Linked DNA regions of Homo sapiens: region 1 is linked to region 2. Evidence: fine-mapped expression QTL. Tissue or cell type: nasal epithelium. Region 2 holds a variant in brackets; the other region holds the start of a gene. All regions are shown on one strand. Distances are between the middles of the regions.

What was found. PIP is the estimated chance that this variant, and not a neighbour inherited with it, causes the effect.
Region 1: CHML starts here. The variant in region 2 is fine-mapped to the expression of CHML in nasal epithelium (TOPMed, PIP 0.97).

What each region holds. Positions count from the first base shown.
Region 1 is chr1:241,636,518-241,644,613 of GRCh38, forward strand. CHML (CHM like Rab escort protein) reads right to left here and starts at 3,852. Exons shown (of 2, transcript NM_001381853.1): 1 at 3,365-3,852. OPN3 (opsin 3) reads right to left here and starts at 3,852. Exons shown (of 4, transcript NM_014322.3): 1 at 3,365-3,852. The coding sequence starts at 3,737. RefSeq lists enhancers at 2,979-3,549, 3,550-4,119 and silencers at 3,222-3,271, 3,602-4,181.
Region 2 is chr1:241,722,511-241,730,619 of GRCh38, forward strand. WDR64 (WD repeat domain 64) reads left to right here. Exons shown (of 28, transcript NM_001367482.1): 10 at 787-926. All of the region lies in intron 1 of LOC124904603 (a long non-coding RNA gene), which reads right to left. Among named protein-coding and RNA genes, the nearest start is that of WDR64, 74 kb to the left of the region's middle. The variant T/A (reference allele first, on the strand shown) is at 3,761.

The DNA of each region.
Region 1 (8,096 bases), 86 kb before region 2:
ACAGCTGAATATAAGACCTTTCCATGCCACAACCACCCTTAGGATCTCATGGTAGCAACATGAGACTATTTCTACTCAATTACTAGTCAGATTATTACAAAAGGATTAATTCAGTAAAACAACTGGCCATTTAAAAATATTTAGGCTCATAATAGCCCTGAGGAGGAAAATGTATTAAAAATATTATATGAATGTACACATGCATATAAGTAATAAAGGAAAAAAGTGTGTAAGTGTAAGTAAAAAAGGAAAACTTCTGATTTCATATTAAAATATCTTAACATAAATAATACCTACTTCTAACATTTGAATACAGTGATGTTTGCATTTCGCCACTGTCTCTGCAACCCTGAATCTCTGCATCCCAAGCAAAAGGTCTATCTAAACATCCTCTGCCAAGACTAACACTGTTTGTTCTTATTTTTGAAGGGGAAGTTTAAAAAAAAAAAAATAATAAGGTTCTCCTGTTAACTTTGAGCATAATGCTGGTTACATTCCATGTGCGGAAGACATCTGTGTGATGCCCTGTGTGGCCAGAGGTAGAAAGGCCAAGGTGCTGAAGAGCATACTCACCTGAAAGTCTTTAGGCTAAAGCAACAATACTGCTAAACTTTCTAATATTCATCATTGCACAGTTTTGAGCTCTGGTTTTCACTACTGTTAAACCTACTGAAATATAAATCAGTACAAGCTGTACCTGTCTAGCCCAAGATGACTAATAATCCTGGATACTGGAAAAACAAGCCATTCAATTGGAACTTAGATTAAATTGCATAGGGCACACACCTTTAGTTTAACTAAAATGGCAATCCTAACAGTCCTGTCTAGTCAAAGCCTCTGTCTCAAAAATATCAAGGATTCCACTCATTTTTGGCATTCCCTAAGAAGCCAGGAACTAAGTACAGAATGCAGCAGTTGCCTGGCCCACTCAAGTATAAATATAAGTATGTCTGAATTACTTATTCTGCTTCTTCCAGCAGGGTGTGAAGATGGAGACTGAATCTATGATGGTATCTGAAGAGGTGTAACCATAGTACATGCTGCTTCTTGGCTTAGAAAGACAGGGCTCAGGGTAGGAGTAGGAGCAGAAGACACAATCAATAAGCGCTAAGATCAGGCACGTTCTAACCTACAGATATCAAAGGGGTCATCAAAATGCAAAGCAAGTAGGATGGCCTTACAGAGCATTAAGCTGAATTACCCAATAATAGAGATGAGAGAACTGATAGCTGGAGAGATTAAGTGACTTGAGAAAGCCCGCACAATGCATGAGTCGCAGGATAAGGAACAGGATCCACTCTTGTGCCATCAGACCAATGGTCTTTCCAACAGATAGGGCAAGCCTCTCCAAAAGCCTCTGCATCAAGAAGCTACTTCCCTCATTTTTAACTTCCTCCCCTTCAATACTCCACTGTTAGGTAGTTCTTGCTCAGGGATAACTCAGGAAGTGCCCTCCTTTTCTTCATCCTTAACCTGGATCTAGAAGCACAAACTCCGGAATTTACTCCAGGCAAAGAAATCATCTTCGCTAAAAACTTTTTAAACTCTATAGTAACTTCACTACTAACTTGCCCCCCAGGGCTTAAGTCTCGGAATCTCTTATCTCAGGGTTTCCACCTCTACATTAAAAACAGGGAGAAAGTCATGGTTGAAAGCACTAAATGCCCTGAAAAATAGGGCAGCCCTCAGGCAAAAATCTAAGTGAACTTAGAAAATCACTGGGCTGGGACCCTAGGAGGGATGGTGAAGAAGAAAAACAGGAAGGGAGAAGTGACCAGGAGACACAGGAGGGTGGGATCAGCAGAGGAAAGAGGTGAGGAAGAGGGTGGATGACAGCTAGCACTTATAAAGAACTCAGTACACCCTTGTGTTCAAACTCCCGGGCACGAAAACAGAATTTTCCAGCACAGAAAAGGCACTTCAAGGAAAAAAGAACTTTGATGTCTGTGAACAAACACCTGTTGACTACCCTGGAGAACACTACTGATGATACTTTAGGCTTGGGCTTGAATAACCTTCTTAGCATTGCCGAAGAAACTGCCTGATAGGTATTTTACAATTAATATAAGGAGTGTAATCCCATAGTCGTCCATACCACAGCCTACATACACTTGCAGTCCCCTCCCTAAATTTCAAATGTTTGTTCAAATGAAATTATCAGATTAAAGCTTATGAGGGGCGGGGAGGAAAATATTATAACCTCTGAAGCAATCAAATAAAATCTATTTTCTTATTTCCTTCAAAACGCCAAAAAATGAATCATTACAAATATAATATTTGGGTTTGTCATAGCATAGAGGTTACTGAATAAGAAAATATTTTTGATAATTCTACAAAGATTTTTGTTCTCCCAAACCTACCAAGATTAAAGCAATAAAGTATCAATGGATTTCAGGATTTAAAAAAGGAACTTTAAGCCTTGAGAAATACACATTTCTATTTCAAATCTCCCTACAAATGAAATTCCTGAGGCACACAAAAAAATAATTTCCTTTCTACGCTTCCTTCAATGATTTGCTGAGTTGTTGATCATCCTTCAAAACATCATGTCTCAGTGAAACTTAAATCTTCCATAATAAGAGTACTGTCGAAATACATCTTCAACAATGAAGTTCTACTTTAATGAAATCTACCGATTGCAGAGCTAATTACAGTATTTGTTCACCTGAGATGGTATTGGCTGAGCCATTTGTAATCTCACCCAAGATTCTGGTGTGCTGGAACCCATCTATAAGACGGAAAATAGTAAAAACAGCTTACAGGGCACATGCCAATTTGCATTCTGAGGACCTGAATGAAACTGTCTCATTCCCTAGAAAGCATTCAAAGGTTTACAAGTACTAATGAGAATTTTTTTTTACACATTGTTATTTTGGTTTTCTACTCTCATTTTAGGAAACAAATAGTAGTACATGAATCTAATCTCATCACTCCCTCCAACTTTCACGAGTTAATCACTTTTTTTCTTGAATCTCTTGACTCTACAGGCCCTCGTCTCTTTCCTCAAAGTGTAAAAAGCCGTGGTTTCGTGCCTTGTTGAGTGATCTTAGGAGGTAAAAACAAATAAGAAAGGAGGCGGGCCGGGGTTTGGGGTCAACGTGGGGGGCAGATGAGAGACCACAGGAATGGAGTCCTGGACAGCGTGGGGCGGGAGGGGACGGAGGAAGAGGAAGGCACCCGCCATGCGGCTGGGGTCGGGCAGCGTTGAGGAGGCGAGCGGGGAGCGGGGCGGTGTAGGGCGGGGGGCGCGGGGCCGAGCGGGAAGCGGTGCGGGGCGGGCTGGGGGGCGGACGCACGGAGCGGGCAGCGGGGTGGGGAGTGGAAGTTTGCAGAGGGGAGGCTGCCTTCTCCCAGTCCAACTCACCGAAGAGGCTGCCGCTAAACCCGTCCCACACGCAGCCCACGGTGTCCCACACCCAGCCGTTCCTCAGGCAGGACACGAAGGTAAAGGTGACCCCGAAGAGGGACACCAGCAGGTCGCTGAGGCTGATGTTGACCAGGAGGAGGTGAGTGGGAGTGCGGAGCCGCTGGAACTTGTAGTAGAGGACGAGCACCAGCAGGTTGTTGCCGACGCCCAGCAGCCCAATGGAGCCCAGCAGCAGCGCCAGGCGCTCGTAGGTGCCGGGGCTGAAGAGGGGCGCGGGGCTCAGTGTCCCCGCCGGCGCCGGCCCCTCAGCGCCCGCGGCCCCGCCGCCGTCCCAGTAGCCGTGGCCGCCGCTGCGGTTCCCCGAGTACATGGCCCGGCGCCGGCGCGCCTGGCGGGCGGAGGCGCTCAGCTTGCGGCGGGGCTCGCGGCGCGCTCCGCACTGGGTGGGGTTGGGGCTCCGCCGCCTGCTCTAGCCATTGTGCACTGAGGGGCCCGCGCTACCGCGCGCCGGGCCCGCCCTCTTCCCGCCCCTTCCGCCCGGCGCACCCCCCGTGGCCCCGCCCCTCCCCGCGGCCTGTCCTCGTCGCTCCGCTGCTCCCGGCGCGTCCTCTTAGCCCCGCCCCCCCGCGGGCGCGTCCTCGCGGCTAGCTCGCCCCGCCCCCACTGGCTGGGCACCTTCCGCTGGTCGGCGTGGACGCGCGTCGCGGGATAGCCTGGGGGCCAGGGCCGCAGGGTAGCCTCGATGGCTCTTCACACCCCCACCTCCCTGCACCCACCTTGAAAGCTTCGTGTCCACTCACCCATTCATGCACTCACTTATACATTCATTTATTCCTAAGTATTTATGAGCGCCTGCGCCCACCACGTGCTGGCAAGAATTGGGTTTCTCCCCTTCCTGGGAAGCTGTAATAACCCACAACCAGCCTACGAAGCCCATCCCGCGTCATACACTCAATGTAAACAAAAGCAAAGAAAACATTGAAGAGCTCGGGGTAGTCTTACCGGAAAACTGAGAAGAAAAACAACAAATTGATAGACAGGTGCCTGCCTAACTACCTGACTGCTAGAGGACACATGTCCCAGGGCTGATACAAGAGCCTGCCACCCTTGGAGAGTCTGGGATGAAAACTCTCTGAAAATGGCATTCCAATGGAACTGACTTTAAGCCCTGGGCTGGACCCCAAGGCCTTCCAATACCGTCCTTCCTGTGCTTGAAAGCGTGGGTAGATCTTTCCGGTCACTGAGGCCTGCTAAAGTCCTTCACAGGCAGTGAAAGATTCAACCTAAATCTAGCAGGTATAGGAGGCAGGTGCTATATTTAGAACAGCACACATTTCCCATTGGGCCTCTTCTCCTGTAGTGATGAGAATATAGTACAAGTCAAATATAGGTTGTGAACGTCATCACACTCTGCAAGAGCTGCTTCTGCCTTTGTGGTTGCACAATCCCTAAGGAGGCCCTACAAGAAGATCACAGTCCCCAGCCACACCTGCAGCCTGTCCTGGACACTGGTGACGAACACAGGGTTTGTGCAAGCTAAAGAAACTGCTCTCCATACGGGCGTGCCTCACCTCTGTTTGAAAGATCAGTAGGGAATGACTAGCTTGGATCAATCCACATTCTGAATTCCCTGGAGAGAGGATCTAATAGGCTGGCAGCAGCTCTCCACCCTGGTGCACTGAGCAATAGCTAAGGGGCAGTGTGCTCTGCCTTTGACACCTTGATTTTCCTTCAAGGCTTCTGCTCTGGACTCGCCATCTGTGAGACTTCCTACCCACCCACCCCTTAAAAAACACACACACACTTTTAATTGTTAATTTTAGATTTGTACAACCACTGAACAAAACATAACTATTTAACAAGTTCTATATGTTTAATGTCGAAAGTGTTTTCTGTGTCTAGTCTACAGTAAGTTCTCAATAAATAGTAATTTGAATGAATGAATAAAGAACTCGCTATATTTTTTCCTATTCATTCTTCATTGCTGAGTCATTGCCCTTATAAAGCTCACATTCCAGTCGTGTTGGGAGAACAAACAAAAATTAGATAAATACGTAGGGTGTCAGCCACTGACAAATGCCATGAAGAAATAGGGGTCAGGCGTGGTGGCTCATTCCTGTAACCCCAGCACTTTGGGAGGCCGAGGCAGTAGGATTTCTTAAGCCCAGGAGTTCAAGACCAGCCTGGGCAACAAAGTGAGAACTGCCCCCTAACTCTTCAAAAAATAGAAAATTAGCCAGGCAAGATGGTACATGTCTGTGGTCCCAGCTACTCAGGAGGTTGAGCCAGGAGCTATGGGAGATGGGGCAAGGAGTTTGTAAGAGTTAAAGAAAGAGGAAAGAAACACTAATAGCAGCTCAACAGTCAGACAGTGTTATTTGGAAGAATAAACCTAAGAGGGGCTTCTGGCCGATTTCGGTCAGGAGCACTCTCTTACAGACTAAGAGTATTTAAGGATTTTAGAGTGAGAGAGCTTATCACAGGCGTGGAATGTTTCTGTTTGGAGAAGAAGTTTATTGCCAAGTTGGAATGTCTCTGTCGGAGGGGAGGTTATCTCGGGGCTCGCATGTCTCTGGTCAGGGAGGGGTTTATCTTAGGGTTGGAATGTTTCTGGTCGGAGATGTCATTTGTGGTGTATGGTCATGCTGACCTTAGCCATTAGGCTGATGCTGTTTGGATTTAGGTGGTTTTTGATCAAGGGGAACTTTAAAATGGCAGTGCTTGTCCATGATGGTGATGCACCTGCTCTGTCAAGGTTGTTATTTAGACAAGGTGGTTATGGGCAGGAGTACTGTATTGGTATGTTGGAGGAACAATAAGGAAGCAAGAATGAGAATCGGGAAATGCAGCCAGTCAGGTGGGTGTGCAGTGAATGGCCAGAATATGCAGGACCTTGGCCATTTCAATAAAAGGACTTTGGCTTTTACTCAATCAGAGTAAAGTCCAGGGCAATGCCTACTAGCAGTGAATGCAAAGGAGGAGTAAGAGGCCTTTGACAAATGCTTAAGCATTTTTGACACAGTAATTTTACAATACTATGAACCATTAAGGACATTTATTGAGCTTGACAGAAACAGGCAATGATAAGGATATATGTTTCTTTTTTAATTTTAGAATTATGTAATGACAGGATAATGGCAGAACACTACAATCTTTTATTAAAAAAAAAAACAAAAAACAAACAAATGAAAAACACCAGCATGATATAGTTTGGATGTTTGTCCCCACCCAAATCTCATGTTGAAATATAATCCCCAATATTAGAGGTGGGTCCTAGTGGTAGGTGTTTTGGTCATAGGGGGCGGATCCCTCATGAATGGCCTGGGCCATCCCCTTTGTGATAAGTGAGCTCTGGTCATCTAAAAGTGTGTGGCAACTCCGCCATCCCACTCTCTCTCTCTCTCTCTCCCTATCTGGTTGTCGCCATGTGAGATGCCTGCTCTCACTTTGCCTTCCACCATGAGTAAAAGCTCCCTGAGGCCTCCCCAGAAGCTGAGTAGATGCCAACACCATGCTTCCTGTACAGCCTGCAGAACTGTGAGCCAATTAAATCGCTTTTCTTTATAAATTACCCAGTCTCAGGTATTTACAGCAGTGCAAGAACAGCCTAATACACAGCATAAGGACAAACATGTAGACCAATGGAATAGAATAGAGAGCCAAGATATAAACTCTTACATATATGGTCCATTGATTTTTGACAAGGATGCCAAGGCCATTCAATGGGGAAAGGAGGAAAGGACAGTCTTTTCAACAAATGATGCTGGGAAAACTGCATATCCATGTGCAAATGAATGAAGTTGGAGCCTTACATTATATCATATATAAAAATTAACTCAAAATTGATTGGAGACCTATATGTAAAAGCTAAAACTATAAAACTTTTAGAAGAAAACTTCTTGGGTATGACACCAAAAGCACAGGCAACAGGAGAAAAATAGCTAAATTGGACTTTATCAAAATTAAAAACTGTTATGCATCAAAGGGCACTATCAAAAGAGTGAAAAGACAGCACAGCAAATGGGAGAAATACTTGCAAGTCATATATCTGATAAGGCATCAATATTATAAAGACCCCCTACAACTCAACAACAAAAAACTCCACACAACCCAATTCAGAAATAGGCAAAGGATCTGAGTAGACATTACTCCAAAAATATACTAATGGCCTAAAAGCACATGGAAGGAAACTTACTGTGATTAGTCATTAGGGAAATGCAAATCAAAGCCACAATGACATACCACTTCACACCTACTAGAAGGGCTATCATCAAAAAACAAAACAAAACACAAAAACAAGTGTTGGTTTTTGTGTGGAGATGTGTAGAAATTAGAACCCTGTCGTACTGCTGATGGGAATGTGAAATGGTGTGGCTCCTGTGGAAGACAATTTGGTAGTTCCACAAAAAGTTAAACATAGAATTATTGTGAGCTCATTCCTGTAATCCCAGTGCTTTGGGAAGCTTAAGCAGGATGATCACTTGAGGCCAAGAGTACAATGACCAGCCTGGGCAACATAGTAAGACCCCATCTCTTCAGAAAAAAATAAAAAATTAGCTGGGTGTGGTGGCACATACCTGTAGTCTCACCCAACTATTCAGGAGGCTGAGGCAGAAGGATCCCTTGAGCCCAGGAGTTTGAGGTTGCAGTGAGCTGTGATCGTGTCACTGCGCTCCACCCTGGGCAAGAGAGTGAGACCCTGTCTCAAAACAAAAAAAATTGCCATATG
Region 2 (8,109 bases):
ACTAGAATTAGTGGACTAATCAATGGACAAGGGGTTAAGAAATTCTGAAATAGTAACTAAAAGGATAATTATGCGGGCATGAGCTCGTGGCCTTTCCTAAATAAAAAAAAGTAGTGGGTATAAATATGTATCTAGAAATATATCTAATTTATATTTTTAAAAAGTTAACAGTGATTTCCCACAGGGAGTTAGAGATTATGGAGGAAAAGACATTTTTATAAAAATTATGCCCTTCTATGATTTTTAGCAATTAAAAAACCATATTTATTCTATGGTAGTAACTACACATAAATTATATATGCCTATGAATACATGCTAGAAGGGAAGACGGAAAAATGACAACAGTTGATTTGTTATAATGGTGAAGATTAAGTGCAGTTTCCTCTGTCCTTGATTTCTTTCATTATTATAATGTTTGCATAATTTAAGAATGAAAACAAAAGAACAGCTGCCTTAAATATCTTTGGAAGTAAATAAAGTATAAATAATACATTAATGCATCAAAGTATAGGAAAGGATTGAGTCAAGAAAAGAACTCATAAAATATTTATGAGAATTCACATTTGTGTATGTAAATACAGTCTTTACAAAACAGCCTTCACAAGAAGCAGCAGATCCAAACCAAGGCCAGCCCCTTAGCACATCAATCACAGAATAATGCATCCTGCCAGAAACGGACTGTGATTTGCTGTTCGAAGAAAGATACGGGTATGATACAGTGAGAGATACATTTGAAACTCTGACCACCTCAGAAAACCAACAATCTTTCCCTGTCCTCCTTTTCAGGAGATGATAAGGTCATCCGGTTGTGGCACCCCAATATCAGCACCAAGCCAGTAGGGAAACTTGTAGGACACATGTTCAGTATCGCCGAGATCGTAACCAATGAAAAAGATCAACATGTCGTCAGCCTTTCCTCTGCAAAGGTAACAAAAAGAAAATAACAAAACAAAACTAGTTTTTTCCGGAAAATTATCTGTTGGAAGGCATAGGGATGATACAATTTTTGACTGAAATAAATGATAGTCATTGAATCATTGAGAAAAATATTGTCAGTATGGAAAAGGAAATGATAAGCCAATGTTCTCTCTTTCTATTGATTATAGCATAAGTAAGAACACGTTTAAAAACAAGTGTAAAAGAAAAACAATATTGAAAAGATGGCAAATTTTACCCTCAAAAGTAAAACATAAGGGGCCTTTCAATAGATAGGAACATTAGGAAAAAAATGAGGATTTCTGTTATTAAACAGTGTTTGAAACATTCTAACCAATGTAATAAAACAAAAAAAAAGTTATAAATATTAGAATTCAGAGACTGAATTATATTTGCAAATAATGGGATTACCTGCTTGAAAAGAGATCAATACAATCAACTTTCAGTGTAGGAATAGATAAATTCCATAAGGTGGCTAGTTGCAATGGCAACCTAAAAATAAGATAAAATAAAAATTTCTAAAAAATAAATAAGGAAATAAATAAATAAATGTCTATATAAGAACAATAATTAGTGAGGAAAAAAGGTCAAAGAGATAGCATTCACAAGAGTAAAAAATATGCAATATTAGGAATAAACTTAACAGGCAATATTCACTACTAACATTAAGATAACTATGAAGTTTTACTGTGTTTAAGAACACAAATTAAGGGACATACTATGTTCCTACATGGAAATATTGTGCTGTAAGATATTCTCCATCAGTTTAATATATTTATTTATTGCTAGTCAGAATTACTTAAGTGTCAGCTTGCCAAGTTTAAAGTTAATGTAAAAATACTGGTATATAGGAATATCCTAGAAACTTTGGAAGATATAATTATGAGATGGCACTTTCCCTGTCCAATATTAAAGCATATCATAAAGCCAAAATAAATAAAACAGAGCAATAGTCAATGCAGAAATAATCACATCTATGAAGCAAAGGAGAAAATGCAGGAATTAGTTTATGTCTATGTGGGAATTTTGTATAGGACAGAAATAATGTTTCAAATATGTGAGCAAAGGATGGTTTGTTCAATAAGTGTTGGGAAAACTGATTAGCCATAAAGAAAGAAAGATGTAATCAGATCATGATTTCATAATATACAGCACAATACATTACATATGAATTAAAGATTTTAAATTTAAAATACAAAACCATAGAAATTCTAGATTTCCAGAAGAAAATATAGGTGAATAGTCTTATAACTTTTGGGTAATTCCTAAGCATAGCACCTATGACTAAGGAGAAAGTAAATATGACTAAATAAACATTCAAACTTTCTGTAAATTATAATAACTACCATTTATTGAGTGCTTAAGTGCCAGGCGCTGTGCTAAGTATTTTACATATGCAACTCATTGATGCTAATAACAACCCTATAAAGTAATTCTCCCCATTTTACACACGTCAGGGAAAATGACATCTAAATCACTTACACAAGGTCACAGAGCTATCTAGTGCCGAAGTGTGGTCAATCCCATATTTGCCCTTCCTCAGCCTGCCTCCCTATACTCATAAACAAAGTTAAAGGCAGACAGCAGGGGCAGGGGGCAAAAATGCAATAAAAAGCAGAGAAATTGGAAAAATATCCTTGAACAAATACCAAAAATCTTTAGCAAGTCAGTAGGGGAAAGAAAGTGGAGTGAAGGGCAAAGGTTTAAGAACACAGACAGGTTTACATACTGCTGGGTGGAAATAAAACTGGCAAAAACTTCCTGCGTATTTGTTCTAATAAAATAGCTAGATGAGTGTGCAAAGATCTGTATTAAAGGATGCTCAATGCACTATTGCTTATATTGATTTAAGAAGGAAAAAAGAAAAACAAGAAAATAGGGAGGAAACAGGAAATACAGAAAGGAAATGAAAGAGGGAAGGGAAGGGAAAGAAAAAAACCCGGTTGCTTTCCCTCCACGTCCCCCAGCCCCGCACCTCCCTCCTCGTACACCCCCTACCCCTCATACACCCTCTACCCGATGCAAAACCCTTCGATGGAAGCAATCGGGATCTCCAAGGCCCAGTCGTTCCCTCCATGCTCACGGAACTATGCGAATCTCCCTGGAGCCCATGCTTGCCATGTGCAACCACAAGGGAAAGACTCTAAGGACCTTTGAGGGGTTCCTCCCAGGCTAGAGAGGAAAATGCACCCGGCACCTGCCTCCTCCAGTTCACAACTGAGGACGTGACCTGACCTGCAGGATTCCCCAGCAGGCCAGCAGCCCTCACCTGCCAATATGGTAGCCACAAATTTTTAAAACATGGCTAGTCCGAATTGAGGTCCGCTGTGAGTGTAAAATACACAAGACTCCAAAGATTCACTATCCCCCCACTCCAAAAAAAAAACTCTCAATTTTTTGAGACAGGATCTTGCTCTGTCGTCCGGGCTAGAGTACAATGGCATGGTGCAATGGGGCTCATTGCAGCCTCGGGGCTCTCTGCTGTCTTGACCTACTGGGCTCGAGGGATCCTCCCACCTCAGCCTCCCCAGTAGCTGGGACTACAGGTGGGGGCCACCGTACGAAGCTAATTATTTTTATTTTTTGTAGAGAGCTCTCTTTTTTTTTTTTTAGGTCTGTCTAATTTGCTAATTTTTAAATTTTTGGTAGAGATGGGGTCTTGCTATGTTGCCCGAACTTCTGGGCTCAAGTGAGCCTCCTGCCTCAAAGCACTAGTATAGGCCTGAGCCATGGCACTGGGCCAATCGTTTTTATATTGATTATATATTGAGGTGATAATAATTTGGCTATATAGGGTTAAAAAATACATTAATAAAATTAATTT[T/A]TAAAAAAAGAGCAAGGGACTGCATGTAGTGGCTCATGCTTGTAATCCTGGCACTTTGGGAGGTCAAGGTGGGAGGATCGCTTGAGCCCAGGAGTTCAAGACCAGCCTGGGCAACATAGTGAGACACCATCTTTAAAAAAAGAGATTATGATAATGGTTGCACAACTATTTAAATTGACTAAAACTCACAGAACCTTACACTAAAAGCGGGTGAGTTTTAAGGTAAGTAGATTACACTTCAATATTGCAGTTGAAAAAGAGAGATAATTAGGGTGATGTACCAATAAAGTAAAATTCAAGAGGAAAAAAAGGCTTTGATTAAGTAAATTATGCTGTATCCTCATATACAATAGAAATATCACATAGACATTCAACATTATGTAAATGAATAGTCATATGAAAATATCTAAATAATATATAAAATACAATAATATGTAAGTAATCAATTTTAAATCAATTTTAAAACATAACGTGTCTATCATATGTTATTGGAAATGATTAATAGCAAGATGTTTTAGTGAGGCTAACAAGATTGTGGATATACATGGATGGATTTTTTTCTTTTGTTTTCTCTTTGTTTTTTTAAATAGTAAATATACATTACTTTGTAATAAGGACAAAGTTTTTTTTTTTGAGACGAAGTTTCATTCTTGTTGTCCAGGCTGGAGTGCAATGGCACCATCTCAGCTCACTGCAACCTCTGCCTCCCAGGTTCAAGCTATTCTCCTGCCTCAGCCTCCCAAGTAGCTGGGATTACAGGCTCCTGCCACCATGCCCAGCTCATTTTTGTATTTTTAGTAGAGACAGGGTTTCGTCATGTTGTCCAGGCTGGTCTTGAACTCCTGACCTCAGGTTATCCACCTGCCTCAGCCTCCCAAAGTGCTGGGATTACAGGTGTGAGCCACCGTGCCCAGCTTAGGAAATTTTAATTTTTTTAAGTAGTACTGGAAAGACAGTGAAGGTTTTGAGACACTAAAACTAAAAACATGTTACGATTGAGACCTGGAGTCTCCTACAGATAATTTAAAGAGAAATAAGATATCTTTCTAGCAAAAGTTGAGATCATTCATGCTCAGAGATGAAGAGACAGAAGAGAGAATCTTTCCTATTTCTTTTAAATGTAATGAGTGTATTAAGATGATACTCATTCATGCATCTCAGTAGCACCACTTGGGAAAATTACTTAATATCTTTCCATTTGGTTTCTTCATCTGTAAATGTAGGAATGTTTAGCCCAGAGGGCCATTATAAAGATGAAAGGAGGTCATTCATTTGGTTATTTAACAAATACTTATTTATTTATTGAGTGTCTATTGTGTTAGATACTGTTCTGAGTTCTGAGTTCTAGGGACAAAGCATTGAACAAGGAGGACCAGGGCCCTGCAATGAGAAAGTTGACATGCTAGGGGAAGAGACAGACAAACAAGCAAAGTAACAAGTACATAAGAAAACAGTATGATAAGTATGGTAAGAAATAGGAAACACAGGGCTGGGTGTAATGGCTCAAACCTGTAATCCCAGCACTTTGGGAGGTTGAGCCAGGAGGATTGCTTGAGGCCAGGAGTTCAAAACCAGCCTAGGCAAAATAGCAAGACCCCATCTCTACAAAAACAAAGAAAAAGAAGAAGAAAAGAAATAGAAAACATAGTGGTGCAGTGTGATTGAATCTCACCTCTGAGGAGGTGACATAAAAGCTGAAGCCTGAATGATCAGGGGAACCAGCCCCGTGAAGATCTAGGAAAAGGAAAAGGGCAATTTAGGCAGAAAGAAGAGCAAACTGGGCTGGGTGCCGCAGTTCATGCCTGTAATCCCAGCACTTTGGGAGGCTGAGGTGGGTGGATTATTTGAGGTTAGGAGTTCGAGATCAGCCTGGCCAACATGGTGGAACCCTGTCACTACTAAAACTACAAAAATTAGCCTGGCATGGTGGTAGGCACCTGTAACCCCAGCTACTTGGGAGGCTGAGGCAGGAGAATCGCTTGAACCTGGGAGGTGGAGGTTGCAGAGAGCCGAGATTGCACCACTGCACTCCAGCCTGGGCAATAGAGCGAGACTCAGTCTCAGAAAAGAAGAAGAAGAAAAAAAAAGCAAACTAGGCACATACATGTTTTTGGTTTTTTTATTGAAGCTATATTATTATTTACAGAAAAGGGAACAGACAACATCCCTTCAAACTCTTTCATATAAATTAGCTTTCATCACATTAAGCAGAAAGCATATAAATCGCCATGCATAGTTGTGTGCCCACTACATGCCTTTTCCTAAGCTCTTAAAATAGCAAGATTTTTATTCTTTCTCCTAATTTTGCAGTCTTTCCACCAGGATATTACTTTCTTCCCCAACTGCTAAAATTGTATGTCTAGTCACAGAGCCCAAGTATTGAACAGATGTGCCACATCTATTACACCTGAAGAAGAACTGACGAATGTTGAAAAATGCAGAGACAAATATAATCTTCACTTACTTTCATTTCATCAGCAAAACCAATGGGAGCAATGGTTGGAAACCTTCTCAAGCACAGTTCTATTGACCAAAAGGCTGATTCTCTTCTTCTTTTTTTTTTTCTATGAAGGGGAGAAATTTACATACTTTGATGATTTATAACAGATTACAAATGTATGTAAAAGTTGCTAATTTTCGTACATTTTCACTTTGGAAGTGGTATGTAGAAACCTGAGAAAAGGCAGTTTGACTAGATTGTGAGTGTGCATATCTTCAAAGGCAGTTATCTTTAAAAAAAATTCTGCCTACCTAAAACTGAATTTATTTTCTACTTCAAGTCTTCTCTTCCTTACTTCTGATTTTCCTCTAACTGTTAATGGTATCATTTGTTTCCCAGAGAGCCATAATCCAACTTCAAAGTCACCTTTGATCCTTCTATCTCTGTAAGCCTTGCCACTGGTCAGTTTGAAGTCTCTGAAATGTGTCTCCTGTAAATTACCTCATTCTTCTTCCCAGAGTCATGGCCTTAGTTCAGACCCATCCACCAAGGGGCTCCCAGTTGCAGGTGGCCCATTAGAAAGCACTTGTAGACCTCTTATCTTCAGTTTCTTCTCTCCCCAAACCATCCAGATATTGTACTGCCATGTTGATCCTCCTCCAACCCATTTATAACCTTGTCATTGCCTTCTCACATATATTCAAAGGCCCCTCATGCCTTACAAATAAAGTTCAGATTATTTTTTCTAGTTCTTAAGGTTCTCTAGGGTCTGGAACAAGAATATCTTTTCAGCTTTGTTTGGCTTCAGAAATTCCAAGCCTTACCAAATTCTTCTCCAAAGGCTTTGTGCATTCCCGTCTTTGTCTGAAACAATTCTCCTCCCATTCCCAGACATCCTATATATCCTTTACATCTAAGTGAAATATCATGTCATGCCCAAAGCCTTCACTAAGATAAAAATTGAGTTTTTTTTCCTTTTGGTGAGTGAGAAATGTGTAAATTTGAAATAAACCTGGAGATAGAAAAACTAACCTTTTAAAATGTTACCTTCAAGTTTTAAAAATTTGAAATCTTTCCTTGCTTTAGTTCCTTGTGCTTTCTGTTTGTATGGGATTATCATAAATGATGCAAGTTCAAATACTTTTCTTGTTTCTTTGATAATTGGAAACATCCATGATTGAGAACCTGGTTTCACTGCCTTCATATTTTACTACCTTTTGTCCTCATTCTGTGGCTTGGAACATTCCCTTTTGAGTAAACTGTTTGCAACATTCTTAAGAGTAAGACTTGTTTCAAAACTTTCCTGAGTGACTGTAGGAAAATTTTCTGGGGAAGACAAATATACTATGTATTATAAAACATAAAATGTGAGTGGCCATCTAGGAAGAAAAAATAAAAACTAAGAAAAAAGGGGTGAGGGCACATGCTTTGGAATTCAGTTCTCAACTTGCAATACTTTTTGCTTATGTGCAGGTCTTGTTGCTTTTTCTTTAGTTCATCACCCAGGACAGCTCCTTGACAACCTTCAAAGGAAGACCCTGTGGATAGCTCTGAGTCCTGGGAGCAAACATGCCTACCAAGACCAGGAAGCAGTCCCTATATAAGGCTTCCTTCTGAGTGTGGCTATCACACTTCTATAACCAGGAGCTCTTAGCTATGATTGCACATTTGCTTAAGATGAGGCAGGCTGTTTGTGATTGTTGCCCTTTGGGACTCTTTCCTTTGTAATTTTTATTGCGTTTCTGAGTGTCTTTATTTTATCCTCTAGACTTTCTCTAGACACCTCTACCAGCTTTCAGACCCCTTGCACACACACATACACATATTCACTACAGCCTCCCTAAGGTAACTATCTGGGTATTCTATTGACATTAACCTTTTATCTCTCACAAAATGTGGTTCCCTTGCA